Linked DNA regions of Homo sapiens: regions 2, 3 and 4 are each linked to region 1. Evidence: fine-mapped expression QTL. A gene starts in region 1. Each other region holds a variant in brackets. All regions are shown on one strand. Distances are from middle to middle. Region 1 holds the start of PRORP (protein only RNase P catalytic subunit). Region 2 overlaps PRORP (protein only RNase P catalytic subunit). Region 3 overlaps PSMA6 (proteasome 20S subunit alpha 6). Region 4 overlaps PRORP (protein only RNase P catalytic subunit).

Evidence for each region.
Region 2: its variant is fine-mapped to the expression of PRORP in whole blood (TOPMed, PIP above 0.99).
Region 3: its variant is fine-mapped to the expression of PRORP in whole blood (INTERVAL, PIP 0.97).
Region 4: its variant is fine-mapped to the expression of PRORP in monocytes after LPS (Fairfax 2014, PIP 0.94).

The regions. Positions count from the first base shown.
Region 1 is chr14:35,119,354-35,127,514 of GRCh38, reverse strand. It overlaps PRORP (protein only RNase P catalytic subunit), which reads right to left and starts at 4,963. Exons shown (of 8, transcript NM_014672.4): 1 at 4,880-4,963; 2 at 3,284-4,563; 3 at 733-780; 4 at 1-36. The coding sequence starts at 4,269. PPP2R3C (protein phosphatase 2 regulatory subunit B''gamma) reads left to right here and starts at 5,525. Exons shown (of 13, transcript NM_017917.4): 1 at 5,525-5,613. The coding sequence starts at 5,556. PRORP-PSMA6 (PRORP-PSMA6 readthrough) reads right to left here and starts at 5,676. Exons shown (of 15, transcript NR_182666.1): 1 at 5,463-5,676; 2 at 3,284-4,563; 3 at 733-780; 4 at 1-36. RefSeq lists enhancers at 4,470-4,979, 4,063-4,982, 4,990-5,069, 5,610-5,739, 4,983-5,902 and 1 more.
Region 2 is chr14:35,255,035-35,263,195 of GRCh38, reverse strand. All of the region lies in intron 5 of PRORP (protein only RNase P catalytic subunit), which reads right to left. The region is part of intron 5 of PRORP-PSMA6 (PRORP-PSMA6 readthrough); the gene reads right to left. It also overlaps the pseudogene RPL9P3. Among named protein-coding and RNA genes, the nearest start is that of PSMA6, 33 kb to the left of the region's middle. The variant G/A (reference allele first, on the strand shown) is at 4,925.
Region 3 is chr14:35,316,141-35,324,301 of GRCh38, reverse strand. PSMA6 (proteasome 20S subunit alpha 6) reads right to left here. Exons shown (of 7, transcript NM_002791.3): 7 at 6,809-7,053. The coding sequence ends at 6,996. PRORP-PSMA6 (PRORP-PSMA6 readthrough) reads right to left here. Exons shown (of 15, transcript NR_182666.1): 15 at 6,831-7,053. Among named protein-coding and RNA genes, the nearest start is that of PSMA6, 28 kb to the right of the region's middle. The variant AATT/T (reference allele first, on the strand shown) is at 4,031.
Region 4 is chr14:35,145,129-35,153,289 of GRCh38, reverse strand. The region is part of intron 4 of PRORP (protein only RNase P catalytic subunit); the gene reads right to left. The region is part of intron 4 of PRORP-PSMA6 (PRORP-PSMA6 readthrough); the gene reads right to left. Among named protein-coding and RNA genes, the nearest start is that of PRORP, 27 kb to the right of the region's middle. RefSeq lists an enhancer at 1-405. The variant T/AAT (reference allele first, on the strand shown) is at 4,379.

The DNA.
Region 1 (8,161 bases):
GACTCTATGGTTTTTCCACAGCCCGAACACTGGCCACTGTAATTATAATTGTTAAATAATAATATTTAAATATGTCGAATAATGTTCTGGGGAAAAAAATTTGTGAAATGAACAATGAGGAAATTAAAAGGTAATAAAAAAGAACATTAAAACCTTTGTGATAATCACATACATCTAATTTTTTGTAAACCTGATAATATCACAAATTAGTGTGCCAGAAAACCCAAAAAAGTAGATTGGCCGTTTGGATGACTTTTTTTTTTTTGAGACAGGGTCTTGTATTTTTAGTGGAGACTTGGTTTCAACATGTTGGCCAGGATGGTCTCGAATCTCCTGACCTCGTGATCTGCCTGCCTCGGCCTCCCAAAGTGCTGGGATTACAGGCGTGAGCCACCGCGCCCAGCTCAGATGACATTTTTAAAGTAATTCCTATCCTCTGGAATATCATATTGGTGAATTAAATAAATAAATAAATCCTAAAACACAACTGGGTCTGGAACCTCTAGGGAAAAAACATCTCTAAGACTTCATATAGGTTCACAGTACTCACAGGAAAAACATTTTGGGCACTGCTAAGTCTCTGTATGCAAAGTATGTTTTTTTCCTCAGATACTCTAATTACAAACTTGTAATTATCCTACCCTTAAGGTGTTCTTAAATATTTTTCAATTAATAGCAACAAAACCTACTAAACCAAAATCAAACAAGTTAAAAATAAACATTGGTCTTCACCTTTTTCGGACTGTGGTGAATTGTCCTTTCCATTGTTTTCCAGGAACACTATGAAAAGATTGCAAAACCAAATCATGAGAAGGTTAGATTCCTACTGAAATGAAAGATATTCATGGTATTTGGAAACTCTTATAAGCAAGAAGTCCGAAAAGTTCAAGATACTTCTGTAGAATGGTTTAATTTAAAAAGTGGCTGCTATCCTGGATGGGGTTAAGAAGCTGCTGGTACTCTGCTCTGGATCTCCTTCTTCCCTGTGGTTCTCCTCCCAACAAATAACTCTCATCTTCAAGTCTACCAAAAGCGGCTGACCTTAGTAGCATAACCTCTAAACCAAACTCAACTCTTACCTTCTCCATAAAGCTGCCAGAAATTGCTCCTGCCGAGAGTAATTTACCTCTTACACACCACTGTTATTTCACTGTGTGGTACTGTATTCCCAATTAAATTGAGAATGTCATAATAGATTTTATAAAACACTCGCAATGCCTAGCCTATTTGGAAGCATTCAAAAACTATGTATTGATGTATTTGTTCAATCAATGTATCCTTTCCTCCTTCCCCTTCCACATATTACCATCAGTTCTTATGATTCTACTGCCTTCTCTCCTTCCTCAGTTCTTAATTCTCATCATCTCTCACCTAAACCTAAAATTGTATTCACGCAGATCTCCCTGTTTTCAATCTTAATCCCTCTCCTATCTACTCTTCTCACTTGGCAACTGCCTTTGTAAAACTCCATTCCAGCATTATTTTTTTCTTTTGAGACAAGGTCTTGCTCTGTCGCCCAGGTTGGAGTGCATGGCGCCATCACAGCTCCCTGCAGCCTTGATTGACTCCCTAGATTCAAGTGATCCTCTTGCTTCAGCCTCCCAAGTAGCTAGGACTACCGGCACACACCGCCATGCCAAGCTAATTTTTGTATTATTTGTAGAGACAGGGTTTCACCATGCCCAGGCTGGTCTCCAACTCCTGGCCTCAAGCTATCCTCCCACCTCAGTCTCTAAAAGTGCTCAGATTACAGGCGTGAGCCACAGCACCCAGCCAAATCCAGCATTCTTGATAACAGAATAAAATCCAAACTCCTTGGTATTCAAAGATTTTCACAAATGGGCTCCTCCTCCCTTGATCTTCAGTAAGTTTAAGATAATTAAGCATAATTACTGCTTCAAAGCTCCGTAAACATGATATAGGGGAAAAAAAGGCAAGAGAAAAACAGAGGGAAGGAACAAATTTTTAGGAAGCAAATTAATGAAGAAATAATGACTAAGCATGGTGGCTCACACCTGATCGCTTGAGGCCAAGAGTTTGAGTCCAGCCTGGTCAACACAGCAAGACCCCACCTCTTAAAAAAAGAATATTAATTTTAAAAAATAAGTAAAAATTTTCAAAAATTTTAAAAAAGACTAAAGCAATAAACAGGTATGTACCCAGTAACATGAATAAAGCAAAAGCAAACCAAAGGAGAGAGCTTTAGAGAGACAGCAGCCAAATGATAGAAAGGTCCAAAACAAACTGGAAGGGTTAAGATTTTCCATTGTAATGCTTACGTATAAGGCTTGATCAATATCCCCCTGTCCACTCTAATCATCCAAGTTGATGAACTATAGATAGTAGACAGAATAGGCCGGACGCGGTGGTTCACGCCTGTAATCCCAGCACTTTGGGAGGCCGAGGCAGGCGGATCACCTGAGGTAGTTCGAGAGCAGCCTGACCAACATAGAGAAACCCCGTCTCTACTAAAAAGAAAATAGAAAATTAGCAGGGCATGGTGGCGCATGCCTGTAATCCCAGCTACTCGGGAGTGTGAGGCAGGAGAAAACCCGGGAGGCAAAGGTTACAATGAGCCGAGATCATGCCATTGCACTCTAGCCTGGCAACAAGAGCAAAACTCCGTCTCAAAAAAAAAAAAAAGGGAGAGAGTAGACAGAATAAATATAAGCATATTATCTCAGTCGCTAGATTTCAGAGGAACTTCTGAAAATACTAATATGGCCAGAGACAGTTCTAGTCAAATGCTATATTCTTTTCTTGCTATGAACAGTGGCCATAAGTAGTATTAAGTACTCACATCATACTAGATGCCTAAGAAAACAAAATTAATGATCCTTCCAAAAGGAAAAAAATGTAAAAATTAAAACTGCTATATAATTTCAGTTTTATGTGATGGGTAAAGATTAGCACAAATTATGTATGTTGTTACTTTTTTTAAAGAGAGAAAATTTTGTCGTAAAGAGAAAATAAATCTTACTAAGAGATGGAAAAAAGTATAATCAGAAGAGTGATTCTCAGCAACTAACAACAAAAAAGAATGGCTACTTTGAGGTTTAAAGTTATTAAATTAAAAATAATTAGCCAGGTATGGTGGCACATGCCTGTGGTTTTAGCTACTGAGGAGACTGAAGCGAGAGGATCACTTGAGGCCAGGAGTTTGAGGTTACAGTGAGCTATGAACACACCACTGCACTCCAGTCTGGGCAACAGAGCAAGACCCTGTCTCAAAAAAAAAAAAAATTAAAGAATAAAAACATACATATAAAAAAACCAAAATTACCTCTCAAACCATGTTTTTATACTGTGTGCAAATGACTCCCCTGGATACAGCTGATTATTTCTTAGATATGAAAGAATATCTAGTAGTTTATTTGAATAGTTATCATCCTTTATGTCTTTTCCAAAATCAAAGAAAGCTTTTAAAGTTTCCAACATAGGAACAATATCATGACCTAGCAATTCCTGATATAAATTCCAAGCTGTGTTTACATCTTGATGAAGGAGAGCTCCCTGGATACAGTCATTATAGTTCTTTTTTGAAGGAGTTATAACTTTTTTGATGTCCTCTAACAGCAACAATGCTTCTCTCCATCTGTCTGAATGGATCAATCCCCGGATGAGAAGACTGTAACCTCTAGGTTCTAAAGTCTTATATCTGGCTTTCATAATTTCAAAGACATCAATAACTTCAGATGTCTGCATATGAAAGACACAGAGATACAAATACTTGACCAGTAAATCGTAACTTACAATACCATTATTTTTGGCTGCTACCCATGCCAGCAGAGATTTAGCCACATCTATAGAGCTATGACAGCCAGCCATCTGTGAAATGATCCAACTTTCGAAACTGGTCTTTCCGGTGTTTTCTTTTAAATCTTCCTTAAGTTTATCCCACTCCTCTGAATTCAAAGGTTGTGTTGGGAGTTGAATAGTGTTCCTCACAGGTGCCAAGGCATGATCTTCAGTTTGAGAATTCATCTGTGATCTCTCCTTAGCTGCTCCAGCTAAAAAAAAATGAGGAACAGAATAAACTTGCTTATTACTGCCCTCATCTTTCCTGAGATATCTGGCCTTGGCAATCAGATTCGTTGCTTTGGTATTCTGTGGAGACATTGTTTTAAGAGAAAACAACCTCTGCTGGTTCCTGATGCCACAGCGGTCTGCCAGAAACAGCGAGACATAAGAGTGCCCTGGGCCTAGCCCAAGGTATGGGCTCTTCCAAAGCTTCGGAAAGCTTCGAATACCAAACAAATAGAAAGTCATTATGCAGTGAGATCAGCACCAGATAGTGAGAGAGATGTTGAAAAAACCCCTCTTCTATGGCAAAATTAAAGAGATTGGGGGTCGGCGGTGCAGAGTCGAAGTGGAACTTTTTAAAAGGTTTGTGTTTCTTCCTTACAGACAAATCAAGGTTCTGCTTTTGGGGCTACTTAAAAGCAAGAAGGCAGGTGAGTTTTCTCTATTAAACAACAATCCGGGGATGTCCAACGTCGCAAGCCGCAAACCAGGGGACAGAGCAGGAATCCTCTGGTGCCTCTTACATTCCAGTTCATGAACCTGAGGAAAAAGCACAAGACGGAACGCCCAGTTTTACTCACGTGGATCACAGCTGTCCTGAAAAGGAACAGATTCCCACGGGAAGCTTGCTGGAAAGGGGGTGTAAAGCCAAAACCGTATCCAGGGACCCCCAACTCCAGCCTACCACCAACAGCGGCGAAAGCCGAAGTCTAGGGGCCCTCACCCTGCATAGCTCTCTACAGACCGCAAAACTCCTCCGGTGGGGGGACGAGGAGGGAGGAGGTGGCGAGTCAGCTGCGCCAACGACTCAGGAAAGGAAGAGAGGTACAGGAAGGGCGCTGCCTAGACTGCGTACCGAACGCTGACAAATGAAGTTCACTTCATTCAACAACTCAAAGCGGCACTCAGACTTAACGCGGCCATAAACGCGGCGGAAACTACAGTGCCCACGATGCACCGCGCCAGCCCCGACCGACGGACGAGACTGACCCGGACTTAGGCGTTCCGCCTGGCCCGGCGGCGAGGAAAAAAGGCAGTTTTGAAGCATTTAGTGGCAAAAGGGGTAGGAGACGGCTGCTGAAGTGTCTACTACATTCAGGGGACCTGGAAGGCTTCCAGATATCCGCAATGAACAATGAAAAGAAATTGTGAAAGAAGGCGCTTCCCTCAAGCCGGAACTAATGAACTCCTGGGTCACGTGGTGCGCACGCGCCAAAGGCACACGATAAAGGAAAACGCGGGCTTATCGTGGCCTTTAAAATCCGGCTTGGTGAGCTTGGGTCGCCTCTGAAGGAGAACCATTTTCCATCTCTTTCATAGTTTTTTCCCCCAGTCAGCGTGGTAGCGGTATTCTCCGCGGCAGTGACAGTAATTGTTTTTGCCTCTTTAGCCAAGACTTCCGCCCTCGATCAAGATGGTGGTTGGACGGCCTTCCTAACCTTTACGGGGCCTGGCGGTGCTGACGCCTGAGCTGGTAGGGGTGGAGCAGGTAGGAAACAGCAAATGCAGAAGCTGCTGCGCGGAAGTCGGCCATGGACTGGAAAGAAGTTCTTCGTCGGCGCCTAGCGACGCCCAACACCTGTCCAAACAGTGAGTTTTGGGAGGGGCAGCCCGTTGGGATGGCCCGGCCCTAAACTCCTAGAGGTAGGGGGGAGGTGGGGAGGAGGAGCAAGGGGGAGCCGCCTTTTCCGCTTCTGTGAAACCTCCCGACAAAGGAGGCGGAGTGGAATGTGGTTTAAGGATCCCGATAGGTTTGACCCAAACTTTCCTGGGGCAGAATCTAGAGGAACGAAAAACTTAGCTTTAGTCACTGACTTCCATGGTCTTAATCTAAACTTGTGAAGAATAACTTGGAACCCCGGCTCCAACAACGCCTGAACCCCACCAGGACCTATAATTGTCCTCCTGCCTTTTTACTGTCACGCTTTTTGCTTCCCTCGTAATCCATTTTATATTTCATAATCCATTTTTCCTTTTATTTTTCTCCTTCACATTGCTTATTAACTAACCTCGTTAAATCTACCTTTCCTATTCCACACCCGCACTAAGGGCTGTTGAAAGTGGCTGGAGAAAAACAGAACCTTGGTGAGTTGTCTCACTTTTTTTTTTGAGACGGAGTCTCTTGCTCTGTCGCCCAGGCTGGCTGGAGTGCAGTGGCAGCATCTCCGCTCACTGCAACCTCTGCCTCCCGGGTTCAAGCGGTTCTTCTGCCTCAGCCTCTGGAGTAGCTGGAACTATAAGCGCGCGCAACCACGGCCGGTTAATTTTTGTATTTCTAGTAGAGACGGGGTTTCGCCATATTGGCCAGGCTGGTCTCAAACTCCTGACCTTGTGATTCGCCCACCTCGGCCTCCCAAAGTGCTGGAATTACAGACGTGAGTCACCGCGCCCCGCCGAGTTATCTCACTTTTAATACAAGTCCACTAATCTAAAGAAGGTGTTTTGGTCATGTCTACCGTGTTTTCCTGGACGTTCATTCTCCTACATTCAATTTTCATCTCCCAAACTGCCAATCTGTGTTTTCCTAAATACACTTTTTTTTTTCCGATACAGGATCTCCCTGTGTTGCCCAGGCTGGAGTGCAGCGGCGCAGTGAAGTATTGCTGCAACCTCGATTTCCTGGGCTCAAGGGATCTTCCCACCCCAGCCTCTTGAGCAGCTAGAAGTACAGGCACACGCCACCACACCCGGCTAATTTTTTATTTTTAGTGGAGATGAGGTCTTGCTATGTTGCCTGGGCTGGTCTCGAATTCCTGGCCTCAGGCAGTCTTCCTACCTCCACCTCCCAAAGTGTTGCTATTACAGACGTGAGCCGCCGCACCCAGGCAACACTCTTTTACACTATTCTTCTCATCTCCTACACCTGCAGTCTGTCCTACCCGCTTCTTACTTTAAGCTGATGAACTTGTATTTTAATATATATCTCATTAAGAAAGGAGAAGCAGTCGGCCGGGCGCGGTCGCTCAGTCCTGTAATCCCAGCACTTTGGGAGGCCGAGGCGGGCGGATCACGAGGTCAGCAGATCGAGACCATCCTGGCTAACACGGTGAAACCCCGTCTCTACTAAAAATACAAAAAAATTACCCGGTAGTGGTGGCGGGCGCCTATAGTCCCAGCTACTCCAGAGGTTGAGGCAGGAGAATACCTTCAACCCGAGAGGCGGAGCTTGCAGTGAGCCCGAGATTGTGCCACTGCACTCCGGCCTGGGCGACCGAGCGACACTCAGTCTCAAAAAAAAAGGAGAAGCAGTCAGAGGAGAACATCACCTGTCCCCCTTAACATTTCTTTCAGCCCCACAACCCCACAGTTAGTTGCCCATACACTCTGGCTTCACTGTTAAAATGATGAACTGATGCCGGGCGCGGTGGCTCAAGCCTGTAATCCCAGCACTTTGGGAGGCCGAGGCGGGCGGATCACGAGGTCAGGAGACTGAGACCGCAGTGAAACCCCGTCTCTACTAAAAATACAAAAAATTAGACGGGTGCGGTGGCGGGCGCCTGTAGTCCCAGCTACTCAGGAGGCTGAGGCAGGAGAATGGCGTGAACCCGGGAGGCGGAGGTTGTAGTGAGCCGGAGATTGTGCCACTGCACTCCAGCCTGGGCGACAGAGCGAGACTCCGTCTCAAAAAAAAAAAAAAAAAAAGATGAACTGTCCATGCTCCTATTTAAGAGTCCCTCCAGTCCACCACTAGATTGCATTCTTTTCCCTGTATTCACTGACTTCCTTCCAGCCTCCTCCTTTCTTTCCTACATCATCAGATTTTCCTTCTGCTGGATCATTTACACCAGCACAAACGTGCTGTTAATATCACCCATCTTTTTAAAAGGTGGGTGGTCGGGGGTAGTGGTGTTGGGAGGCTCGGTGGCTCATTCATGTAACCCCAGCACTTTGGGAGGCCGAGATGGGAAGATCGCTTGAGGCCAGGAGTTTGAGACCAGCCTGGGCAACATAGTGAAACACCGTTTCTACAAAAATAGAAAGTAAAAAATTAGCCCGGGTGGTTGTGCACCACTGTAGTCCTAGCTACTCGAGAGGCTGAAGCAGGGAGGGTTGTTTCAGTCTAGGAGTTTGGGGCTGCAGTGAGCTATGATCATGACACTATACTGCAGCCTGGGTGACAAGAGCCAGACCCTGTCTT
Region 2 (8,161 bases), 140 kb before region 1:
CAAAGATTGTTAATGTCTATTTACCAGTCTTTCTGTCCTATGTATTTTTATTTTATTTTTCTTTCCAAATCAATAGGTCTTTTGCATCATTTAAACATCACAAATAGGTCTTAGGAATCATCCGGCATCTTGTTTCAGAAGCTGGACAACTCTTAGATCTTATTCATCAGCCGGCTGAACAGTTCCTTTTTCAGAGACATAGATACCATCCAAAAATTTCCTGATATCCTTGTTTTTAACTGTCGTGGCTTGCTGAATCAAAGCCTCTAAATTGGAAACAAGCTCAATGTCATTACCTTCAAGGATTAATTCATCTTTCTGGGCTTGAGATACTGAACAAGCAACACCTGTTCTCATCCGAACCCTGAGGATGTATTTTTCACCCAAGAAATTTCAGATTTCAACAAGAGACCCATTCTCCTGGATAACGACATTGATGGGGAAGTGAGCATACACAGACCTCATCCTGTAATGGAAGCCCAGTGTAACACCCTTGATCATGTTCTGTACATGACTACAAATAGTCTGAACGGCAGCCAGTTCCTTTCAGTTTCCCCACCATTTATCAACCTGGAGCCTCTTTTCTTTCTTTCCAAGAAGACTGAATCTACACTGATGTGATTGAAATCCCTCTGCAGGGTTCCTCTGGGGCCTTTCACAGTAACTGTGTGTCCCTTCAGAGTAATGTCACCATTTTCTGGAATGTTGACAGTCTGGTTGCTGAGAATGGTCTTCGTTCTCTCAGTAGACATGGCAAAGAAAGTTATTCTATGTATTTTTAAACATAATCTTATAAGCTATTTTAAAAGTTGGGCTAGTAATAAAAGGCAAACATCTACACTAGTAAACTTTGATTCATGGATTCAAATAGCTCAAAAGACATAGGCTGGGTCTGGTGGCTCAGGCCTGTAATCCCAGCACTTTGGGATGCTGAGGCAGGAGGACTGCTTGAGGCCAGGAGTTCGGGACCAGCCTGGGCAACACAGCAAGACCCCATCTCTAAATAATAATAATAATAATAAAATTATAAAAAAAATTCAAACAAAAACTATTTCTGATACTGATTGCTTAAGTTTTCAGGCAACTGGGAAAACATGGCTTAAGATAATACAGTTGTGTCTTCATAGCTATATCCTGGTTCAGATAAATGGCCTTGAGTTTACTAATAGTACATTAAAGACTGGGGCCCAAAGAAGAGCAGAAAAGCCTATCTTGAACTATTCTGGGGCACCATCTTGTGGCTGAGAAGTCTCTACTAGAAGCAGCTCTCTGAAAACAATGAAAACAAAGGAGAATAATTGAAAGACACAGGGAAAAAGATGAGTGTGCAGCATAAAAGCCCTGGCCTGAAACTCCATGACAGTCCAGCCATGAACCCACTTCCTCTCGGGTAAATTCGAAGGCTGGATCCAGTGGTCTGAATCAGTGTCATAGGTATACTTGGAATAGTTTGTTTGTTTTTTTTTTGAGACAGAGTCTCGCTCTGTTACCCAGGCTGGAGTGCAATGGCACAATCTTGGCTCACTGCAACCTCCGCCTCCTGGGTTCAAGTGATTCTCCTGCCTCAATCTCCTGAGTAGCTGTGATTACAGGCACCCGCCACAACGCCCAGCTAATTTTTGTATTTTCAGTAGAGACAGGGTTTCGCCATGTTGGTCGGGCTGGTCTCAAACTCCTGACCTCGTGATCTGCCCGCCTTGGCCTCCCAAAGTGCTGGGATTACAGGCGTGAGCCACCGCGCCTGGCTACTTGGAATAATTTTTTTAAAAAGACAGAAAATTCAACTTAAGATTCTATGTTAGATCAAAAGTAAAACCAGGAGGGAAAATGGAGTAGATGTACTTCTCCCTATGTCTCCCACTAAGTGCAACTAAAAACCTTGGACATTATATATAAAATAAACATAAGAAGACTTGGAAAGGTAGAGGGAAAAATGGCAAACTGGCTGGGGACCTCAGTACACAAGGACTGACATGGTGGTGAGTTCCCTGGGTTTTCTTTTTGCCACATAGATCTCAGAATTGGAGCTGAAGAAGCTGTCAACCTAGAAATGCCAATGTGTGCAGACAAAAAAACCCAACAAAGGCTTGTTCTCTCTAGCCAAAGACCAGGAAAGAGGCAGTCTTACTCAGAAAACTTGGTAAAATAACATCAGTAGATTATGATGCTGTGTATGTGTGTGAGTCTGTGTATGTATAAAACAAATAGAGTTGGCTGGGTGTGGTAGTTCATACCTGTAATCCTAGCACTTTGGGAGGTCAAGTTGGATGGATCGCTTTGTTGCAGAAATCAGGAGGACTAGACAGACTTCGGGGTAAAGCAGGAGGATCTTTATTGAGTGCACTCAGACCTAGCAGACTTAACATCTAAAAAACTGGGCTAAGAACAAAGACAGCACTTGACTGTTAAATACCCTTCAAAAAGGGGGTGGGCTAGCCTGAAACAAACTTATGGTGGTGCGAAAGCAAGAATACAGAGGCAGAACAAAGACAGTTAATCAAACTGTGATAGGTGCATAACTCAGGATTACACATGACTGTTGCTATGCAATCTAGATGGCTGTTATCTAGGTTTGCCTTAGTGCCTAGCACGGCTTATTCTGTGACATTCACTATGGCACCTAGGTGGCTATAGCTTAGGCCTGCTCAGATGTCTCATGACTTTCACTGTACTGTTTAGGTAAAACAGAATACTTGAAGTTACTAGTTACAGAGAACAGGAATCTATAAACTTATACTATAAGACAAAGGAAAATTTGTTTTTCTCTTCCTTATGTTGAGGGAGTACTGGGAGAGTCTTCAGGGCACATTAGATAGTATTATCAAGACTTTTCTTGGGTCTGGCCTGTGCCTGTTGCTGCCTCTGGGTCAAGTCAGCCTAATACAGGAAAGTTTATTTCTCTTTTTTAATTTTATTTTTTCTTTCTTTCTTTAATTTCTGCCTCAGCTTGAGTTCAGGAGTTTGAGACCAGCCTGGGAAACAAAGCAAGATTTTGTCTCTACTAAAAATAAAAAACATTAGTTGGGGATGGTGGTGTGTGCCTGTGGTCCCAGCTACTCTGGAGGCTGAAGTGGGAGGATCCCTTGGGCCCAGTAGATCAATGCTGCAGTGAGCTATGATAGTGCCACTGCACTCCAGCCTGCGCAACAGAGTGAAACCCTATCTGGAAAAGCTCCCACCAAAAAAAAAAAAAAAAAAAAAACCCGAAAAACCTCCAAAACACCTGCAGTGATCACTAAAAATGCTATACAAAAAGATACACTCAAAAACACTATAGATTTTATTTTATTTTATTTATTTTTTGAGACAGAATCTCGCTGTCCGCCAGGCTGGAGTGCAGTAGTCTGATCTCGGCTCACTGCAACTTCCGCCTCCCGGGTTCAAGCAATTTTCCTGCCTCAGCCTCCTGAGTAGCTTGGATTACAGGTGCACGGCACCATGCCTGGCTAATTTTTTTTTGTATTTTTAGTAAAGCCCGATTTTCACCATGTTGGCCAGGCTGGTTTTGAATTCCTGACCTCAAATGATCCACCCACCTCAGCCTCCCAAAGTGCTGGAATTACAGGTGTGAACCACTGCACCCAGAAAAAAACACTATAGATTTTAAAAAGCCATTATAAAGAAATAAAAACGGAATTCTAAAAAAGTTCAATAGTCCATAGGAAGGGAGGAAAAGTAAAACAGAGACAAAACACAGAAAAGAAAAAATAAATGGCAAATATAAGCCCTAACATATCAATAACAGTATGAGGTATAAAAAGTCTACATATACCAATTAAAAGACAGAGGCTGGCAGAATGGATTAAAAAACATGACCCAACTATATGCTATCTAAAAAAAAACTCACTTCAAATATAATCAAATAGACTGGTGGAAAGTAGAGGGATGGAAAAAGTTATATAGCATGCAAACAATGAAAGGAAAGCTGGAGTGGCTATATTAATATTAAATAAAATAGACTTCAGAGCAGAGAAAATTACCAGAGACACAAAAGACGTTATATAATGGTAACAGGGTCAATCTAAGAAAACATAGCAATCTTAAATGTGTGTACCAAACAACAGAGCTGCAAAATATGTGAAAGCAAAAGCTGACAGAACCAGGAGGAGAAATAGCCAAATCTACAACTACAGTTGGAAACCTCAACACTCCTCTCTCAACAATTGAGATAACTGGACAGAAAATCAGCAAGCATATAGAAGAACTCAACACCATCGTCCAGGTTCATGAATTGGAAGGCTATAGACAGTAAAGGCAAAGGAAGTAGAATAGCTAAAACAATTTTGAAAAGAAAGAATGAAGCAGAAAAATCAGTTAACCTCATTTTAGTCCTTCTTATACAGCTATGGTAATCAAAACTGTGTGATAATACCGGAAGGATACATTCTGGAGTCTGGACTACATAGCACAACAAAATAAACAATACGCGGTTCATTCTAGAGCACATCTAAAATTCCAAACTGATCCCAGAACTAATACCTCCTGAGTACCCAATACCTCAGGCTTAACCTAAAATACGGTATCTCTGCCCCGCCCCCACACCCTGCCTGCCCCATCCCACACAACATCACGGGTCCTCCTTAGTGATACTTTCCCTTACTGATAAGGAGTACACTTGGCCCAGACTTCTGGAATGGGAAGATGGAGGCTTACTCAAGTCAGACTTATCATCTTAGAATTCTTTTTTTTCTCTCTTCTGATTTGGGGTTTCTGTTTCCAATATTTCCTACTATTTCACCTTTCCTTTTCACAAAATTATTTTTCCTTGAAATACGTCTCCTTTTGCCACTGCATTTTCTTTATTCTGATTACCATCGGGGTTAAATTTTAATTTTCTGTCTACTGTTTTTTCTCAAGATGATTAAGGATAATTCTCTAAAAATCAGAAGAATAAAAACATATTTTGCCAGGTGCGGTGGCTCAT[G/A]CCTGTAATCCCAGTGCTTTGAGAGGCTGAGGTGGGAGGATCTCTTGAACTCAGGAGTTCGAGACCAGCCTGGGCAACATGGTGAGACCCTGTCTCAAACAAATGAACAAACAAACATATTTCAGATTAATATTTGGTTTGAATTTTTCTGGTTTGGCTTCTGCCCTAATTTGGCTTATCTCCAGTAGGAGGAGATAAGAGATTTTTTTTTTTTTTACTCATATGTGACACATCAACTTTTGGCATAAAACTGATGAAAAGTAGTTCCTGAGCTTAGGGTAAAAATATAGTTGGCAGGGCTACATGGGTTAGAAATAACTGTGTAGGGATGCTCCGGAAATAGAAAAGCTGCCTGGGAGGTAAGAGAGGCCAATGAGAGCAAGAGTTTTTCTCAGTAATCCTAAACAGCAAATGTTAACTTCCTTTCCCTGTGCTTATACCTTTTTACCTCCTCCTCTGCAGTCTATGGCACTTCCTGAGGTTTTATGGATTGTAGCTGTTCAGAAACTCTAAAGCCTTTGGGATCTGATGTCTTCAGAAATTAGAAATTCTTCGTCTGTTCCTCAGCAAGATAACTATCATCAATATACCTCATTTATAAGAACATTCATTATGGGATACCTCCAGGAAAGAACTTAAAAACTGTTTTGGAAGCAACCCAAATGTCAATTTCTGGAAGATGAATAGATCGATAAAATGTGGTATATACATATAATAGATTATTATTCAGCCTTAAACAGGAATGAAATTCTAATACATGCTACAACATGGATGAACTTGAAAACTAAGTGAAAAAAGCCAGACACTAAAGGACAAATACTGAATGATTGCACTTACATAAGTTACCTAAAGTAGTCAAATTCATAAAGACAGCATAGAATGGTGGTTGTCAGGGCAGCAGGGAGAGGAGAATGAGGAGCTATTGTTTAACGGATACAGAGTTTCAGTTTGGGAAGATGAGAAAAGTCTGGAGATGAATGGTGGCAACAGTTGCACGACAACATGAAGTACTTAATGCCACTGAACTGTATACTGAAAAATGGTTAAAATGGTAAATTTTATGTTAATATATTTTACAACAATAAAAGATTTTATCAGGCCAGACACAGTGGCTCATGCCTGTAATGCCAGCACTTTGGGAGGCTGAGGCGGGCAAATCACTTGAGGTCAGGAGTTTGAGACCAGCCTGGTTAACATGGTAGAACCCAGTCCCTACTAAAAATACAAAAAACTTAGCTGGGTATGGTGGCAAGCGCCTGTAGTCCCAGCTACTTGGGAGGCCGAGGCAGGAGAATCGCTTGAACCTAGGAGGAGGAGGTTGCAGTGAGCTGAGATGGTGCCACTATACTCTAGCCTGGGCAACAGAGCGAGACTCGGTCTCAAAAAAGAAAAAAAAAAAAAAGGATTTTATCATAAAAATTTTAAATATAAACAAAAGCAGGCAGAATAGCATAATGAACTGCCATGTACCCATCGCTCAGCTGCAATAATTATCAGCTCACGGCCAATCCAATTTCATCTATATACCAATTCACTTCCTTCTCTCGGATTATTTTGAAACAAATCCCAGACATATCATTTCACCTGTAAATATGTTGGAATGCATTTCTAAATATAAGAATGCTTTAAAAGATAAGCACAGGGCCAGGCGCAGTGGCTCACGCCTGTAGTCCCAGCACTTTGGGAGGCCAAGGTGGGCGGATCACGAGGTCAGGAGTTCGAGACCAGACTGACCAACATGGTGAAGCCCCATCTCTACTAAAAATACAAAAATTAGTTGGGCGTGGTGGCAGGCGCCTGTAATCGCAGATGCTCAGGAGGCTGAGGCAGGAGAATCGCTTAAGCCCAGGAGGCGGAGGCTGCAGTGAGCTGAGATTGCACCACTGAACTCCAGCCTGGGCGACAGAGCAAGACTCTGTCTTAAAAAAAAAAAAAAAAAAAAAAAGATACGCACAATTTCTTTTTTCTTTTTTTTTTTTTGAGATTTTGAGACAGAGTCTCGCTCTGTCACCCAGGCTGGAGTACGGTGGTGCAATCTCAGCTCACTGCAGCCTCCGCCTCCTGGGCTTAAGCGATTCTCCTGCCTCAGCCTCCCGAGCATCTGGGATTACAGGTGCCTGCCACCACGCCCAACTAATTTTTGTATTTTTAGTAGAGATGGGGTTTCACCATGTTGGCCAGGCTGGTCTCAAACTCCTGACCTCGTGATCCGCCCTCCTTGGCCTCCCAAAGTGCTGGGATTACAGGCGTGAACCACTGCGCCCAGCCTGATAAAATCTTTTCTTGTTGTAAAATATATTTAATATAAAATTTATGTAACATAAATGTAACATAAATGACTCATATTTCTGAGTCACAATTGTTTTTTGAATAAGGATCTAAAAAATTCCCATACATTGAAATTGCCTGGTATCTCTCTTAAGACTCTGTATAAGCTCTTTATCTATTTATCTTTTCTCCCTTATAGTCTAAGGCATATGATTGTTCATAGAGAATTTCCTCCATTTAGATTTTACCGATTGCATCCCTATGGTATCATGTAACATAGTCTCCAGTCTTCTATGCTTCTTGCAAACTGGTAGTTGAATCTAGAGGCTGTGTTTGGTGGTACATGCATGTAGTCCCAGCTACCTGGGATGCTGAGGTAGGAGGATTGCTTGAGCCCAGCAGTTCAAGTGTAGCCTGGGCAACACAGCAAAACCCTATCTCTTGATAAAATAAAATATAATGGTCCTGATGAATTGAAAAGGCCAGTTCATTTATCAAAGATTAAGAAGAACCTCCTCTGTAAGTCACTAGGCATGTGGTACTTGGAATACAGATATAAAAAAACAGTTATTCCAGCCGGGTGTGGTGGCTCATGCCTGTAATCCCAGCACTTTGGGAGGCCAAGGCGGGTGGATCATTTGAGGTCAGGAGTTCGAGACCAGCCTGACCAACATGGTGAAACCCCGTCTCTACTAAAAATACAAAAAAATTAGCCAGGCGTGGTGGCACATGCTTGTAGTCCCAGCTACTTGGGAGGCTGAGGCAGGAGAATTGCTCGAACCCAGGAGACAGAGGTTGCAGTGAGCCGAGATCACGCCACTGCACTCCAGCCTGGGAGACAAAGTGAGACTCCATCTCAAAAAAACAAAAAAACAACCAAACACAGTTATCTCTAACCTCAAGGTCTTTGCAGTCAAATTAATATAATATAATGTATGCACTAAGATGGAACACAAAGGATGGGCACTT
Region 3 (8,161 bases), 200 kb before region 1:
TCAGACTATTGTGTGTTCTAGTCCTGTCATTGACACATTGTAGTTGTGTGATCCTGGCCAAATTACTTAACTTGGACTCAGTTTTTGTTTTCGTTTTTGTTTGTTTGTTTTTACCCGCAACAGGGGAATAATAATAGTATAAGTCTATTATTCTTTATCCAAAAGGCATGGGGCCAGGTTCTTTTCTTTCTTTCTTTCTTTTTAAACAGAGTCTCACTCTGTGGCCCAGGCTGGAGTGCAGTGGTGCAATCTTGGCTCACTGCAACCTCTGCCTCCCAGGTTCAAGCGATTCTTGTGCCTCAGCCTCCCGAGTACCTGGGACTACAGGCGTGCGCCACCACGCCTAATTTTTTTTTGTATTTTTAATAGAGACGGGGTTTTGCTATGTTACCCAAGCTGGTCTCGAACTCCTGAGCTCAGGCAATCTGCCCACCTCGGCCTCCCCAGCGAGGATTATAAGCATGAGCCACCACGCCTGGCACAGATGCGTTCGGAATATAATGTATTTTGGATTTTAGAGTGGTAATATGATGTCTAAACCATATATTCCATAACTCTACCACTGGAGTCTGGGGCAGCACCCTATAATTAAGCACATTCATATTTCTGCAGAAATAAAGTGAGATATAAAAAGCCAGTTGAGTTTTAAGAACTTCCTGAATTTTGGAACTGTAGACAAGCAAATTATAAATGTTCAACTTAAACCAGTTTAAAGGATATTGTATCTAAAACAGGGCCTGTCCCAATAAAGACTAATACTTTATTAGGTCACTTTCTTATTTTTTTAGGTAAATAATCTAAATAGTAGATTATAATTCTATCTCCATTCCAATACCTCTTAATTTCATTTCTTATTGTATCAGCTGGAATTTCCAGAATGTAAAATAAATGGAGTTAGAAGCCATCTTGGAGCCAGGTATGGTGGCTGTAATCCCGCCTGTAATTCCAACACTGGGAAGCTGAGGCAGGAGGATGGCTTGAGCCCAGGAGTTGGACACCAGTCTGGGCAACATGGCGAGACCCTGCCTCTACAAAAATAAAACAGGCTTGGCGTGGTGGCTCACGCCTGTAATCCCAGAACTTTGGGAGGCCGAGGCAGGTGGATCACGAGGTTAGGAGTTGGAGACCAGCCTGACCAACATGGTGAAACCTCGTCTCTATTAAAAATACAAAAATTAGCTGGGCGTGGTGGCACGCGCCTGTAATCCCAGCTACTCAGGAGGCTGAGGCAAGAGAATCACTTGAACCTGGGAGCGGAGGTTGCAGCGAGCCGAGATCGTGCCCCTCCACTCCAACCTGGGTGACAGAAGGAGACTCCGTCTCAAAGAATAAAAATAAATAAAAATAAAAAAATTTAAACTAATTCACCATTATGATGTTAATTAGCTTAGCTGTCATTTTAGATTTTTGTTTGTTTTTTTGAGACAGGTGTCTCATTCTGTCCCCCAGACTGGAGTGCAGTGGCGTGACCACAGCTTACTATAGCCTCGACCTCTTGGGCTCAAGTGATCCTCTCACCTCAGCCTCCTGAGTAGCTAGACTACAGGTGTGTGCCCCTACGTGAAGATCCTTAATGTAATAATTTGGTTGTGTCACAAATCTGGATCTTGGATTTGGAGGCTAGTGAGGGAGCTGAGTACCTGGTTTGTTGCTGACTTGTAACCTAAATGGTACAGTAACTGCTTATGAAAAATGAGGTATCAAGAGAAGGAAAGCCTCATGTCTACCCAAATAGCTTCACGTTCATGAATGTCTGGACATATCCTCTGAGTGTCAGAATTATTATATTTCTCATATTTAAAAAATCATATCTGTATTTTTTTTTGAGACAGTCTAGCTCTCTTGCCTAGGCTGAAGTGCAGTGGCGGGATCTCGGCTCACTGCAACCTCTGCCTCCCGGGTTCAAACGATTCTCCTGCCTCAGCCCCCTAAGTAGCTGGGACTACAGGTGTGCGCCCCCATGCCCAGCTAATTTTTGTATTTTTTAGTAGAGATGGGGTTTTACCAAGTTGGCCAGGCTGGTCTCGAGCTTCTGACCTCAAGTGATCCACCCCCCTTGGCCTCCCAGTGCCAGGATTACAGGCATAAGCCACTGTGTTTGGCCTCATATCTGTATTCTTATATTTATTGATTGATTTTTAGATGGAGTCTCACTCTGTTGCCCAGGCTGGAGTACAGTGGTCCGATCTCAGCTCACTGCAACCTTGGCCTCCCGGGTTCAAGTGATTCTCCTGCCGCAGCCTCCTGAGTAGCTGGAATTACAGGTGCACGCCACCACATCTGGCTAATTTTTGTATTTTTGTAGATACTGGGTTTCGCCATGTTGGCCAGGCTGGTCTTGAACTCCTGACCTGAAGTGATCCGCCTGCCTGGGCCTCCCAAAGTGCTGGGATTACAGGCGTGAGCCACTGTGCCTGGTATGTGTATTTCTTACTAATCAAAATGTTCTTTGAGTAAAGATATTTAAAGATTTCAGGCATTTTTCTTGGCATTTTGTATAACCTTTCTGCATTAACCCTTTGTTATCCATTCCAGGTAGTTTGTTTAGAAAACAAAACAAGAAACAGATTGATTGAGACAGAGTTTCACTCTTGTTGCCCAGGCTGGGGTGCAATGGCATGATCTTGGCTCACTGCAACCTCCACCTCCCAGGTTCAAGCGATTCTCCTGCCTCAGCCTCCCGAGTAGCTGGGATTACAGGCATGTGCCACCATGCCCGGCTAATTTTTTTTTAGTATAGACAGGGTTTCGCCATGTTGGTCAGGCTGCTTTTGAACTCCCGATCTCAGGTGATCTGCCTGCCTCAGCCTCCCAAAGTGCTGGGATTACAGGCATGAGCCACTGCGCCCAGCCAGAATTAGAGTATTTAATGTCCACCCTTTTATTTTCATTATTAGAGAAAGGGTCTTGCTTTGCCACCCAGCCTGGAGTACAGTGTTGTGATCATAGTTTACTACAGCCTTGAATTCCTGGGCTCAAGTGACCCTCCCACTTAAGCCTCCCAAGTAGCTAGGACTCCAGGTGTGTGTGCACCACCACAATTGACCTAATTTTAAATTTTTCTGTAGAGACAAAATGTTGCCACACTGGTCTTGGGCTCCCAGTGTATTGGGGACTATAGGCATGAGCTACTGTACCCAGCCTAATGTTCACCTATTTAAAATGATCTATTTCTTCTCATTCTTTTAATTAAGCATAAACAACCAATATTTAAAACTATTCTATATTTAATCCTAATTCATCTAGATTTTGCCTTATAATGTAAAAACTTACTTTCTAACAAATTACAGAATTTTAGTTTTTCACCTCTGAAAAGGAGCCCCTAACAGTAAAACTGAATTAGTTGCTAGTCTCTCATCCACTGATTCTAGGAGGGTGACATCAGTCAAGGCTCTAAGGGTGTGGAAATTCAGCTTGTCTTTAGAGGATTAGCCCTTTTACATAGACCCCACTTTCGAAACGATGGCAGCACTTTCAAAGAGCCTAGTGGATTAGGATGGGTAATCCTAGAACAACCTGGAAGAACAAGGAAGAACCCTGCTTCCTTGTTAGGAAATTTTACTATTCCTGACAGCTCTGAAGAGGATGTGGTTGGTGAAGTTTCCTGCTTCTACTGGTCATATGTTTATGTGGCCTCCCCTTGTGTGGCCCTGGTGGCTGCAGAAACAGGGGCAACTCTAATTTCAGGGACTGGCATGAGACCAGCAGCCACACTCACCTGCATGAGGTCAACAGCACCAGACTTCCTCTGTGCAAAAGAGGACACAAAATGTATTACCCTTAGACTTTCCAAGATTTTTTAATCATCTCTAATTAGTGGTTCAGGTCACCAGTCTAGGGACTTTAAAAAATCCTGTACATTAAAAAAAACATAGGCTACAGCTGAGTGCGGTGGCTTACAGCTGTAATCCCAGCACTTTGGGAGGCCGAGCCAGGTGGATCACGAGGTCAGGAGTTCGAGACCAGCCTGGCCAACATGGTGAAACCCCGTCTCTACTAAAAATACAAAAATAATAATAATAATAATAAT[AATT/T]AGCCGGGCATGGTGCCAGGTGCCTGTAATCCCAGCTACTCAGGAGGCTGAGGCAGTAGAGTCACTTGATCCCGGGAGGTGGAAGTTGCAGTGAGCCAAGATCACGCCACTGCACTCTAGCCTGGACGATAGAGCAAGACTCTGTCTCAAAAAAAAAAAAAAGTTACCATGAATATACAGTTTGTTCTTTCTTCCTGAACATTGTGATGCTGGGTCTCTAAACTTTAATATAAACCAATTCCTTAATGTTATCTTCAAGTACTTATTATTAAGGAGGCACAGAAACTACACACATTCTATGACTTTTCTAGCCCTGTTTCCTGAAGGTAACTAAAATTTCTACCCTTGAAAATACTGGTTCTTAATGAGTATAAATGCTTTTCTCAAAACTATGGAAGATCATACTAATCCTTTTATTATAGTTAAAGCATTCAGTGGGACTTGGAGTCCACATTCAGTAGTATCTTGTTTGAATGAGAAATTGTAAAATAAAGGCCTTTCCTCACATGCCAACTTACGGTCAGGGTGGATTTCTTTTTGGAGACCGGGTCTTACTCTGTCACCCAAGCTTAAGTGCAGTGGCACAATCACAACTCACTGCAGCATCAGACTCCTGGGCTCAAGTGATCCTCTTGCCTTAGCCTCCTGAGTAGCTGGGACTACAGGTGCAGGCTACCATGCCCAGCTAATTAAAAATTTTTTGTAGAGACGAGGTCTTGCTATGTAGTCCAGGCTCATCACAAACTCCCGGCCTCAAGCAATCCTCTCACTTCAGCCTCCCAAAGTGCTGGGATTATAGGTGTGAGCCACAGCGCCCGGCCAGAGTGGGTTTCAAAACCAAAGTTGTAGTTTGTTATTTAATTATACCATATAGCTAGTTTACATTTCTGGCTTTTTTTTTTTTTTTTAAGATGGCATTTCTGTCACCCAGGCTGGAGTGCAGTGGCACAATCTCTGCTTACTGCAACCTCTATCCCCCGAGCTCAAGCAATTCTCCCTCCTCAGTGTCCTAAGTAGCTGGGACCACAGATGTGCATGCTAAGTTTTTATATTTTTGGTAGAGACAGGGTTTCACCTTGTTGCCCAGGCTGGTCTTGAACTCCTGAGCTCAAGTGATCTGCCCGGCTAAGCCTCCCGAAGTGTTGGGGTTACAGGTGTGAGCCAGCACGCCTGGTGCTGGCTATGAAATGTCTTAAGCCAAGTAAACTTGTACCAGTGTCAACAAAATGACTAAAGCTACAATGTGAAGATGGTGAATATTTGTCTGCATATACCAAAGGCTTAATACTTAAAATTGGAGGCAAACCACAATGAGACATCACCTCACTAGTTAGAATAACTATTATCAAAAAGACAAAACATAAGAAGTGTTGAGGATGCAGAGAAAAGGGAACCCTTACAATTAAGGGAAATGTACATGAGTACAGCCATTATGGAAAACAGTATGAACGTTCCTAAAAAAATTAAACAGAATTACTCTATGACCCAACAACTGCACTCCTTGGTATGTATTCAAAGGAAGTGAAATCCGTATGTTGAAGAGGTATCTGCAATCCCATGTTTATTGCAGGACTATACACAATAGCCAAGATATAACTGACTTAAGTGTTCAAAGTGAATGAATGGATAAAGAAAATGTGATATATATACACAAAGGAACACTATTCAGCTATTAAAAAGAATGAAATCCTGTTATTTATAACATGAATGAACCTAGAGGACAATACATTAAGTGAAAATAAGCCAGATACAGAAAGACAAATGCCACATTTTCACTTACATGCCAAGTCTAAAAACGTTGATCTATAAGTAGTGAATAGTACATAGAACAGTGGTTACCAGGGACTGGAGGTGGTAGTGGGAGGGATGGGGAGAAGGTGGTGAACAGCTAAAAAGTTACAATTAGACAGGAGGGGCCCAGTGCAGTGACTTACACCTGTAATCCCAGCACTTTGGGAGCCTGAGATAGGACTGTTCGAGGCCAGGAGTTTAAGACTAGCCTGGGTGACATAGGGAGACCCCTATGTCAATATTTTAAAAGATAAAAAATTAGCCAGGCCTGGTGATGCATGTCTGTAGTCTTAGCTACTTGGGAGGCTAAGGTGGGAGGACTGCTTAACCCCAGGTATTTAAGGTTGCAGTGAGCTATGAGCACGCCTGCCACTGCACTCCAGCCTGGGTGAGATCAAGTACCTGTCTCAAAAAAGAGAAAAAAGGAGTAAGATTTGGTATCCTATTGCACAGCAGAGTGACTACAGTCAACAGTAAGGTACTGTGGACCCAGGCACTGTGGCTCATGCCTGTAACCCCAGCATGTTGGGAGACTGAGGCAGAAGGATCGCTTAATGCTAGCCAGGAGTCTGAGACCAGCCCACGCAACATAGTAAGACCCCAACTCTACAAAAAAATAATAAAATTAGCTGGGTACAATGGTGTACACCTGTAGTACCAGCTACTAAGGAGGCTGAGGTGAGAGGATTACTTAACAAGGGAGTTCAAGGCTGCAGTGAGCCATAATCATGGCACTGCACTCTAGCTTGGGCAATAGAGCAAGATCTTGTTTTAAAAAACAAAAAACTAATAAGGTATTGTGTACCTCAAAATAGCTAGAGGAGAGGATTTTAAATGTTCTCACCACAAAAACACCGTGTTTCAGGTGATGGATATGCTAATCACCCTAATTTGATCATTATAATGTATACATGTATCGAAACATCACATTGCACCCCATAAATATGTACATTAGGTGTCAAAAATAAATTTTAAAATAGGAGGTGAAAACAACAGGATGCAATTATTTTCCAAAAGCCTTGTTTTTATTTATATAGAGTCCTAACCACTTCGGTGGTAGGAGGAGTGGGAGAGGCTCCTTTTTCAATCCAGGGACCTCCATGATGTTGGTTTGTTGTTACCAAACACACAGGTAAGTGGCATCACGGATCTGGTAAACTAACGACAATGTTTAGTCTCTCTCTGCTAGAGCAACAAGGTGAGCATCAATCTCTGCTTCTGTAAGAATCCTAGAAGGCAAAAGGGGGAAAAAAACAACGATTTAAAAAAAATTTTTTCAAACACACGTAAAAGTGGGATAGTATAATAAACTCCCATATACCTATCAACCTACTTTAACAATTATCAATTTATAAACCAATCTTTAAAAAATCTATACACACACTTATCTTCCCTCAGATTATTTTGAAGGAATTCCCAGATATTATACCACCTTCACCTATACACAAAAATGTTTACTTTGACATCAGATTTAGAATTGTATCTTGAAAATAAAATTCTTTAGTTGCAGCTAAGATAGAAAATATTTCAATTGAATAACATAAATAAAGCTAAACTATAAAGTATTCTATTTAGCTTCTATGTCAAAATGCATTTATTTTTTATTTTTTTTGAGACAGAGTCTTGCTCTGTCACCCAGGCTGGAGTGCAGTGGCGTGATCTCGGCTCACTGCAAGCTCTGCCTCCCAGGTTCAAACGATTCTTCTGCCTCAGCCTCCTGAGTAGCTGGGACTACAGGCATGTGCCACTATGCCCAGCTAATTTTTCTATTTTTAGTAGAGATGGGGTTTCACCATATTGGACAGGCTGGTCTGGAACTCCTGACCTCGTGACCCGCCTGCCTCAGCCTCCCAAAGTGCTGGGATTACAGGCGTGAGCCACCTTGCCCAGCCGTCAAAATACATTTATATGTAGTATAACTGAAATTTATGTCAGCTCAAAGATAAAAATTCATGAAGAAATTTTAAGCATATTAAAGTGTTCAGATTCAGAAGTTCATGAAAATAAAGTTATAATTCTATGAATAGTCTACCAGCCAGAGAGTGCTCCATGTTGAACATATATTTCCTTTCTCTTTTTTTTTTTTTTTTTTGAGATGGAGTCTGACCCTGTCGCCCAGGCTGGAGTGCAGTGGCACAATCTTGGCTCACTGCAACCTCCGCCTCCCAGGCTCAAGCAATTCTCCTGCCTCAGCCTCCCAAGCAGCTGGGATTACAGGCGTCCACCACCACATCTGGCTAATTTTTGTATTTTTAGTAGAGATGGGGTTTCACCATGTTGGCCAGGCTGGTCTCAAACTCCTGACCTCAAGTGATCTGTCCACTTTGGCCTCCCAAA
Region 4 (8,161 bases), 26 kb before region 1:
GCCTCCCAAGTGCCTACAATTGCAGGCGCGCACCGCCACGCCTGACTGGTTTTTGTATTTTTTTGGTGGAGACGGGGTTTCGCTGTGTTGGCCGGGCTGGTCTCCAACTCCTAACCGCGAGTGATCCGCCAGCCTCGGCCTCCCGAGGTGCCGGGATTGAGACGGAGTCTCGCTCACTCAGTGCTCAATGTTGCCCAGGCTGGAGTGCAGTGGCGTGATCTCGGCTAGCTACAACCTCCACCTCCCAGCCGCCTGCCTTGGCCTCCCAAAGTGCCGAGATTACAGCCTCTGCCCGGCCGCCACCCCGTCTGGGAAGTGAGGAGCGTCTCTGCCTGGCCGCCCATCGTCTGGGATGCGAGGAGCCCCTCTGCCCGGCTGCCCAGTCTGGGAAGTGAGGAGCGCCTCTTCCCAGCCGCCATCCCGTCTAGGAAATGAGGATAGTCTCTGTCCGGCCGCCCACCGTCTGAGATGTGGGGAGCGCCTCTGCTCCGCCTCCCCGTCTGGGATGTGAGGAGCGCCTCTGCCCGGCCGCCACCCCGTCTGGGAGGTGAGGAGCGTCTCTGCCCGGCCGACCCGTCTGAGAAGTGAGGAGCCCCTCCGCCCGGCAGCCGCCCCGTCTGGGAAGTGAGGAGCGTCTCCGCCAGGCAGCCGCCCTGTCTGGGAGGGAGGCGGAGGTGGGGGGGTCAGCCCCCGCCCGGCCAGCCGCCCCGTCCGGGAGGGAGGTGGGGGGCGCCTCCACCCGGCCGCTGCCCCATCCGGGAGGTGGGAGGCACCTCTGCCTGGCCGCCCCTTCTGGGAAGTGAGGAGCCCCTCTGCCCGGCCACCATCCCGTCTGGGAGGTGTACCCAACAGCTCATTGAGAACGGGCCATGATGATGATGGCGGTTTTGTGGAATAGAAAAGGGGGAAAGGTGGGGAAAAGATAGAGAAATCAGATTGTTGCTGTGTCTGTGTAGAAAGAAGCAGACATGGGAGACTTCATTTTGTTCTGTACTAAGAAAAATTCTTCTGCCTTGGGATGCTGTTGATCTATGACCTTATCCCCAACCCTGTGCTCTCTGAAACATGTGCTGTGTCCACTCAGGGTTGAATGGATTAAGGGCGGTGCAAGATGTGCTTTGTTAAACAGATGCTTGAAGGCAGCATGCTCGTTGAGAGTCATCACCACTCCCTAATCTCAAGTACCCAGGGACACAGACACTGCGGAGGGCCGCAGGGTCCTCTGCCTAGGAAAACCGGAGACCTTTGTTCACTTGTTTATCTGCTGACCTTCCCTCCACTATTGTCCTATGACCCTGCCAAATCCCCCTCTGCGAGAAACACCCAAGAATGATCAATAAAAAAAAAAAAAAAAAGATGGATTAACAAAAAAAAAAGAAGAAAAAAAATTAGAGATAACTGATACAAAGATCCTAGCACAAAGATCTTAGCCTGACACTAAGAATTCAGTAAATGGTAACTATTATTCATTTATTCAACAAATTGAGCATCTTTATGTAAAGCACTATTCTGAGTTATGAGGATACAACAGTGTTCTAAACAGGCATTTAAAAATCCCTACCCTTGTGGTGCTTTCACTCTATACAGAGAAAAGATATATAGTAAAAGCTCTGTGTGTGTGTGTGTGTGTGTGTGTGTGTGTGTGTGTGTATGTGTGTGTGTAGCATGTCAGATAAGTGCTATGGAGAAAAATAAAGCAGAGATGGAAAATAGGGAGTGCTGGCAGATTAGAATGGGGATATGAAGGAAAGAGGGGAATCAAGGATGATTCTGACCTTTTTGACCTGAATAGCTAGAAGGAAAAAGTTGTATTTACTGAGATAGGGAAGACTATACATGTGTATAAAGATCGGGAGTTTGGTTCAGTGGTGATCAGAGGCCTTATTCTCAACATCTCAGCTGCTGCTCTTTCACACTGGTAGTTTTCTCTTCCTTCAGAAGTAAGCTGTCTGTCTTCAGCACCAGTATTACTGTTTCTAATCTAGTATCTTATTTACATTATTCTATTCTCTAAGAAGACCAAATGAAAAAGCAATAAAATCGATACATTTAAGCAATAGCTATAGAAAAACTAAATCAAAAATCCTAGGCAGAATCTTTTAAGAAAAATAACACTAAAAGTGTATCACTCTGGGACGTACCTCACTTCCAAATACTGTTTCTAAAAATTCACTTAGTAGATGATTATAAAGAACTCACAACACTTTTCCCATAAATAAAAATTAATTTAAAAATGGCTTGGTTTCCAAGCCAAATGATGCAATGGGTTATAGTATAACAGTAATAATGCCAACCTGAATCTGAGAGAGAAAAGATCACTCGCTGTAAGAAAGATAAGACTCTCTTGCCCTTAGCACAAGAAAAGTCAAGTATCTCCTTTGCACACTCCCACCTTGTTTCAACCTCCTAAAGGTGACTTTATCCCTCTGTCTCTAGCACACTACTCCACACAAAACTTTCCATTTGAGCACCCCCCTCAGATCAGCCCCTCAAAACGTTCTCTATGAAAAATCACCAACCCAACTCTAAAACAGCAGCAGCCAAACACCCATAGCCACACATAATTTTCATTTCCTTGTAAAGCCAAACTCAGCTAGGCTTTAGGAGGAAAGTACACTGCTTCAAGCTAAATCTCATAAAAAAGCCTGGATCCCAGCTGGTAGAATTTCAGTCAAGTGTTACATAAAAGAAAAAGAATGAAGAAATAAGGAAAACATTTGACATTGGGAAGGCCACTGCTAGGAGTGACCTGCTTGTCCTTTTAACTTTTTAACCTTCCTAAAATTCTGAATTCATTGATTTTTCTAGAAGCTTTACATTTTTGGCCAGAATTCTTGCACCGACATACCTGAATGGTAATTGTTTTAGGGCACCAGAAACCGTGCTGCTGTAAGACAGTAAACTTAATCAATAAATGTTGTGTGACTTCTGATTGCTCCACCAACAGCCATTTCCCCATCTTTCTCCCTCTGTTCAGGCCTCCCTATTACCTGAGACACAACAATACTGAAATTAGGCCAATTAATAATTCTACGATGGCCTCTAGGTGTTCAAGTGAAAGGAAGAGTCTCCGGTCTTACACTTTAAATCAAAAGCTTGAAATCACTGAGCTTAGTGAGGAAGGCATGTCAAAAGCTAAGACAGGGCTGGGCATGGTGGCTCACGCCTGTAATCCCAACATTTTGGGAGGCCGAGGCAGGCGGATCACTTGAGGCCAGAAGTTCCAGACCAGCCTGGGAAACATGGCGACACCCCATCTCTACTAAAAATTAGCCGGTGTGGTGACACATGCCTGTAATCCCCAGCTACTCGGGAGGCTGAGGCATGAGGATTGCTCAACTGAACCTGGGAGGCAGAGGTTGCAGTGAACTGAGATTATGCCGCTGCACTCCAGCCTGGGTGATAGAGTGAGACTCTGTCTCCCCGCCTTAAAAAACAAAACAAAACAAAACAAAAAAGCTAAGATAGGCCAAAAGCTAGGTACCAAACTTTGCAAATGCAAAGTTCTCGAAAGAAATCAGAAGTGCTACTTCAGTGAACAAATAAATGATAAGAAAGCAAAATAGCCTTATTGCTGATATGAAGAAAGTTTTGGTGGTCTGGATGAAACATCAAACCAGCCACAACATTCTCTTAAGCCAAAGCAAGACCTGAATGCTTCAATTCCACAAAGGCTGACAGAGGTGATGAAGCCGTAGAAGAAAAGTTGGAGGCCAGCAGAATTTGGCTCAAGAGGTTTAAGAAAATAAGCAATCCCCATAACATAAAAATGCAAGGTGCCAGTCATGGTTGCTCACACCTGTAATCACAGTACTTTGGGAGGCTGAAGCAAGAGGATCACTTGAGGTCAGGCGTTCGAGACCAGTCTGGGCAACATAGCAAGATCCTATCTCTACAAAAAATTTAAAAATGATCCAGGTATGGTGGTATGCCTGTAGTCCTAGCTACTTGGGAGGCCTAGATGGGAGGATTACTTGAGCACAGGAGTTCGAGGCCCCAGTGGACTATGATCATAGCACCACACTCCAGCCTGGATGACAGAATGAGACACTGTATTAAAAAAAAAAATTAGGCCGGGCGCGGTGGCTCACGCTTGTAATCCCAGCACTTTGGGAGGCCGAGGCGGGCGGATCACGAGGTCAGGAGATCGAGACCATCCTGGCTAACACGGTGAAACCCCATCTCTACTAAAAATACAAAAAAATTAGCCGGGCGTGGTGGCGGGCGCCTGTTGTCCCAGCTACTCGGGAGGCTGAGGCAGGAGAATGGCGTGAACCTGGGAGGCGGAGCTTGCAGTGAGCCGAGATTGCGCCACTGCACTCCCACCTGGGCCACAGAGCGAGACTCCGTCTCAAAAAAAAAAAAAAAAAAAAAAAAA[T/AAT]TAAAAAGTGCAACATGTAGGCTGCTGGGAGGTTATGGGCACAGACTGGTGGAACCAACACAAAAAACAAAAAAAGTGCAAGGTGAAGCAGCAAGTACTCATGTAGAAGCTGCAGCAAGCTATCCAGAAGATCTAAGATCACTGATGAAGGTGGCTACACTAAGCAACAGATTTTCCGTGGAGACAAAACAGCCCCTTCTATTGGAAGAAGATGCCATCTAGAATTTTCATAGCTAGAGAGAAGTCAATGCTTGACTTCAAAACTTCAAGGGACAGGCTGACTCTCTTGTTATGGGCTAATACAGCTGGTGACTTTATTGAAGTCAATGCCCGTTTACCATTCCAAAAATCTTAGAGTCCTTAACAATTATGCTGAATCTCCTCTGCCTATGCTCTATCAATGGAACAAAGCCTGGCTAACAGCACATCTGTCTACAGCATGGTTTACTGAATATTTCAAGCCCACTGTGGAGACCTACTGCTCCAAAAAAAAGACTCTTCAAAATATTATTGCTCAGTGACAATGCACTTAGTCACCCAAGAGCTCTTATGGAGATGTATAAGGAGATGAAAGTTGTTTTCATGTCTACCAACACAACATCCATTCTAAAGCCCATGGATAAAAGAGTAAATTCGACTTTCTAGTCTTATTATTTGAAAAACATGTTTTGTAAGGCTATAGCTGTCATAGACAGTGATTGCTCTGAAGGATTTGGGCAAAGTCAACGGAAAACTTTCTGGAAAGGATTCACCGATCTACATGCCACTAAGAACATTTGTGATTCATGGAAAGAGGTTGAAATATCAACAGTAACAGGTTTGGAAGAAGTTGACACCAACCCTCATGGATGACTCGGAGGGATTCAAAATTTCAGTGGAAGAAGGAACTGCAGATATGGTGGAAATAGCAAGAGAACTAGAATTAGAAGTGGAGCCTGAAGATGTGACTGAATTGCTTCAATCACAAAATAAAACTTGGATTAGGAATTTCTTCTTATGGATTAGCAAAGAAAGTGGTTTCTTGAAATAAAACTCACTCCTAGTAGACACGTTGTAAATATTGTTAAAATGATAACAAAGAATTTAGAATATTACGTAAACTTAGTTGACAAGGCAGCAGCAGGATTTCAGAGGATTGACTCCAATTTTGAAAAAAGTTCTAATGTGGTAAAATGCTTTCAAAAAGCACTGCATGCTGCAGAAAAATATTTTGTGATAAGAAGAGTCAATTTATGTGGCAAACTTCATTATTGTCTTATTTTAAGAAATTGCCACACAGTGGCTCATGCCTGTAATCCCAGCATGTTGGGAGGCTGAGGTGGGTGGATCGTTTGAGCCCAGGAGTTCAAGACCAGCCTGGGCAATGTGGCAAAACCCCAGCTCGACAAAAAATTAGAAAAAATTAGCTAGACATGGTCATGTGAGCTTGTAGTTGTAGCTACTCAGGAGGCTGAGGTGGGAGGATCATGTGAGCCTGAGAAGTGGAGGCTACAGTAAGCCATGATCTTGCCAGTGCACTCCAGCCTGGGTGACAGAGTGAGACCCTGTCTCAAAAAAATAAAGAAATTGTCATAGCTATCCCAGCCTTCAACAAACACCACCACTTTGATCAGTCAGCAGCCACCAACATCAAGGCAAGACTTGCCATCAGCAAAAAGATTACAACTTGCTGAAGGCTCAGATGACCACCAGCATATTTTTTAGCAATAAGGTATTTTTAAATTAAGGTATCTATATATATTTTTTTAGACATAATGCTATTGCACACTTAATAGTCTACAGCATAGTGGAAAGATAAGTTTTGTTGTTGTTTAGAGGCAGAGTCTCACTCTGTCTCCCAGGCTGGAGTTCAGTGGCACAATCACAACTCATTGTAACCTTGAACTCCTGGGCTTGAGTGATCCTACAAACTCAGCCTTCCAAAGTAGCTAGGACTACAGGTACACACCACCAAGCCGAGCTAACTAAAAAAAAAATTTTTTTGTAGAGATGGGATCTCACTATGTTCCCCGGGCTGGTGTCGAACTCCTGGCCTCAAGCAATGTTCCTGCCTGGGCCCCAAAGCACTGGGATTACAAGTGTGAGCCACCATATCCAGCCATGGAAAGATAACTTTTATACGACCTGGGTAACCAAAAAATTTGTGTGACTCACTTTATTGCAATATTTACGATAAAGCTTAGAACCAAACTTGCAATGTCTTCAAGGTATGCCTGTACTTTAAAACACATGGTTTAAAACTATATTTTGCAGATAATTAAATTTCTTTCTCAGATTTTTAAAAAATCACTAAACCCACAAAGTTTTCCATTTACCACACAACATTTATTTAAATCTGGGGAAAAAAACCCACAGTTCATTTTAGAGATGACAAGATCTTCAAACCCAGAGAAAAGAGAAGGTTCTGGAGACTGTGATAAAGAGCTCAGTTCACATCTTTCAGTTTGTAACCAAATAAAGAAAAAAAAATCCCTAAAGACCTAAATTAGATAAGTTCTTATACTGACATTTCATTAGGGTCATATGTCCTGTCTTAAATTTGTATTTAGAGAAACACCTCTTTGTCAATAAACTGAAGAGATACTATCAAGCAGGACAAATGATTTGCTTTAAACTTAACCCTAAAAACTCAATTAAATGTACCACGGGCAATTTGCCTGCCTTTTTTTCTTTTCCAGAAAGGAGAATCCTAAATCATTAAAGCTTTATTTAAAAACTTCTAAATCACAGAATTATGGGGACTGTGATTATGATTAAAGTTTCATTAAAAGTTCAAAATGGGGCTGAGTGCGGCGGCTCACACCTGTAATCCCAGCACTTTGGGAGGCCGAGGCGGGCGGATCACCTGAGGTCAGGAGTTTGAGACCAGCCTGGCCAACATGGTGAAACCCCTTCTTTACTAAAAATATAAAAAAATTAGCCGGGTGTGGTGGCAGGCGCCTGTAATCCCAGCTACTTGGGAGGCTGAGGCAGGAGAATCGCTTGAACCCGGGAGGCGGAGGTTGCAGTGAGCCGAGACGGTGCCATTGCACTCTAGCCTGGGCAACAAGAACAAAACTCTGTCTCAAAAAATAAAAAAATAAATAAATAAATAAATAAATAAATAATCAAATAAAATTAAAGTTCAAAATGAATGGATCATGGTGGGCTGTTTCCTTCCTTCCTTCCTTCCTTCCTTCTTTCTTTCTTTTTTGAGATGGAGTCTCGCTCTGTCGCCAGGCTGGAGTGCAGTGGCGCGATCTCAGCTCACTGCAACCTCCGCCTCCCAGGTCCAAGCAATTCTCCTGTCTCAGCCTCCTCAGTAGCTGGGACTACAGACGCATGCCACCATGCCCAGCTAATTTTTGTATTTTTAGTACAGACGGGGTTTCACCATGTTAGCCAGGATAGTCTTGATCTCTTGACCTTATGATCTGCCTGCCTCGGCCTCCCAAAGTGCTGAGATTACAGGCGTGAGCCACTGCGCCCGGCCTTTTATCTTTCTTTATAGCTATTTTGACCAAAAAAAAAATTTTCCCCTTTTCACAGGTGTTGATGAAATTTTTTATAATTAATAAATATTATAATCAGGATAAAACCCACTTCCATTTTGAAAAGTAAAAGAAAATGATTAAGAAGTCTCAATAAGAACTAAAAAAGCACCAGGTGCAGTAGCTCACGCCTGTAATCCCAGCCCTTTGGGAGGCCAAGGTTGGAGGATTACTTGAGCCCAGGAGTTCACGACAAGCCCAGGCAACAAAGTGAGATCCCCCATCTCTACAAAAAATTAAAAAATTAGCTGGT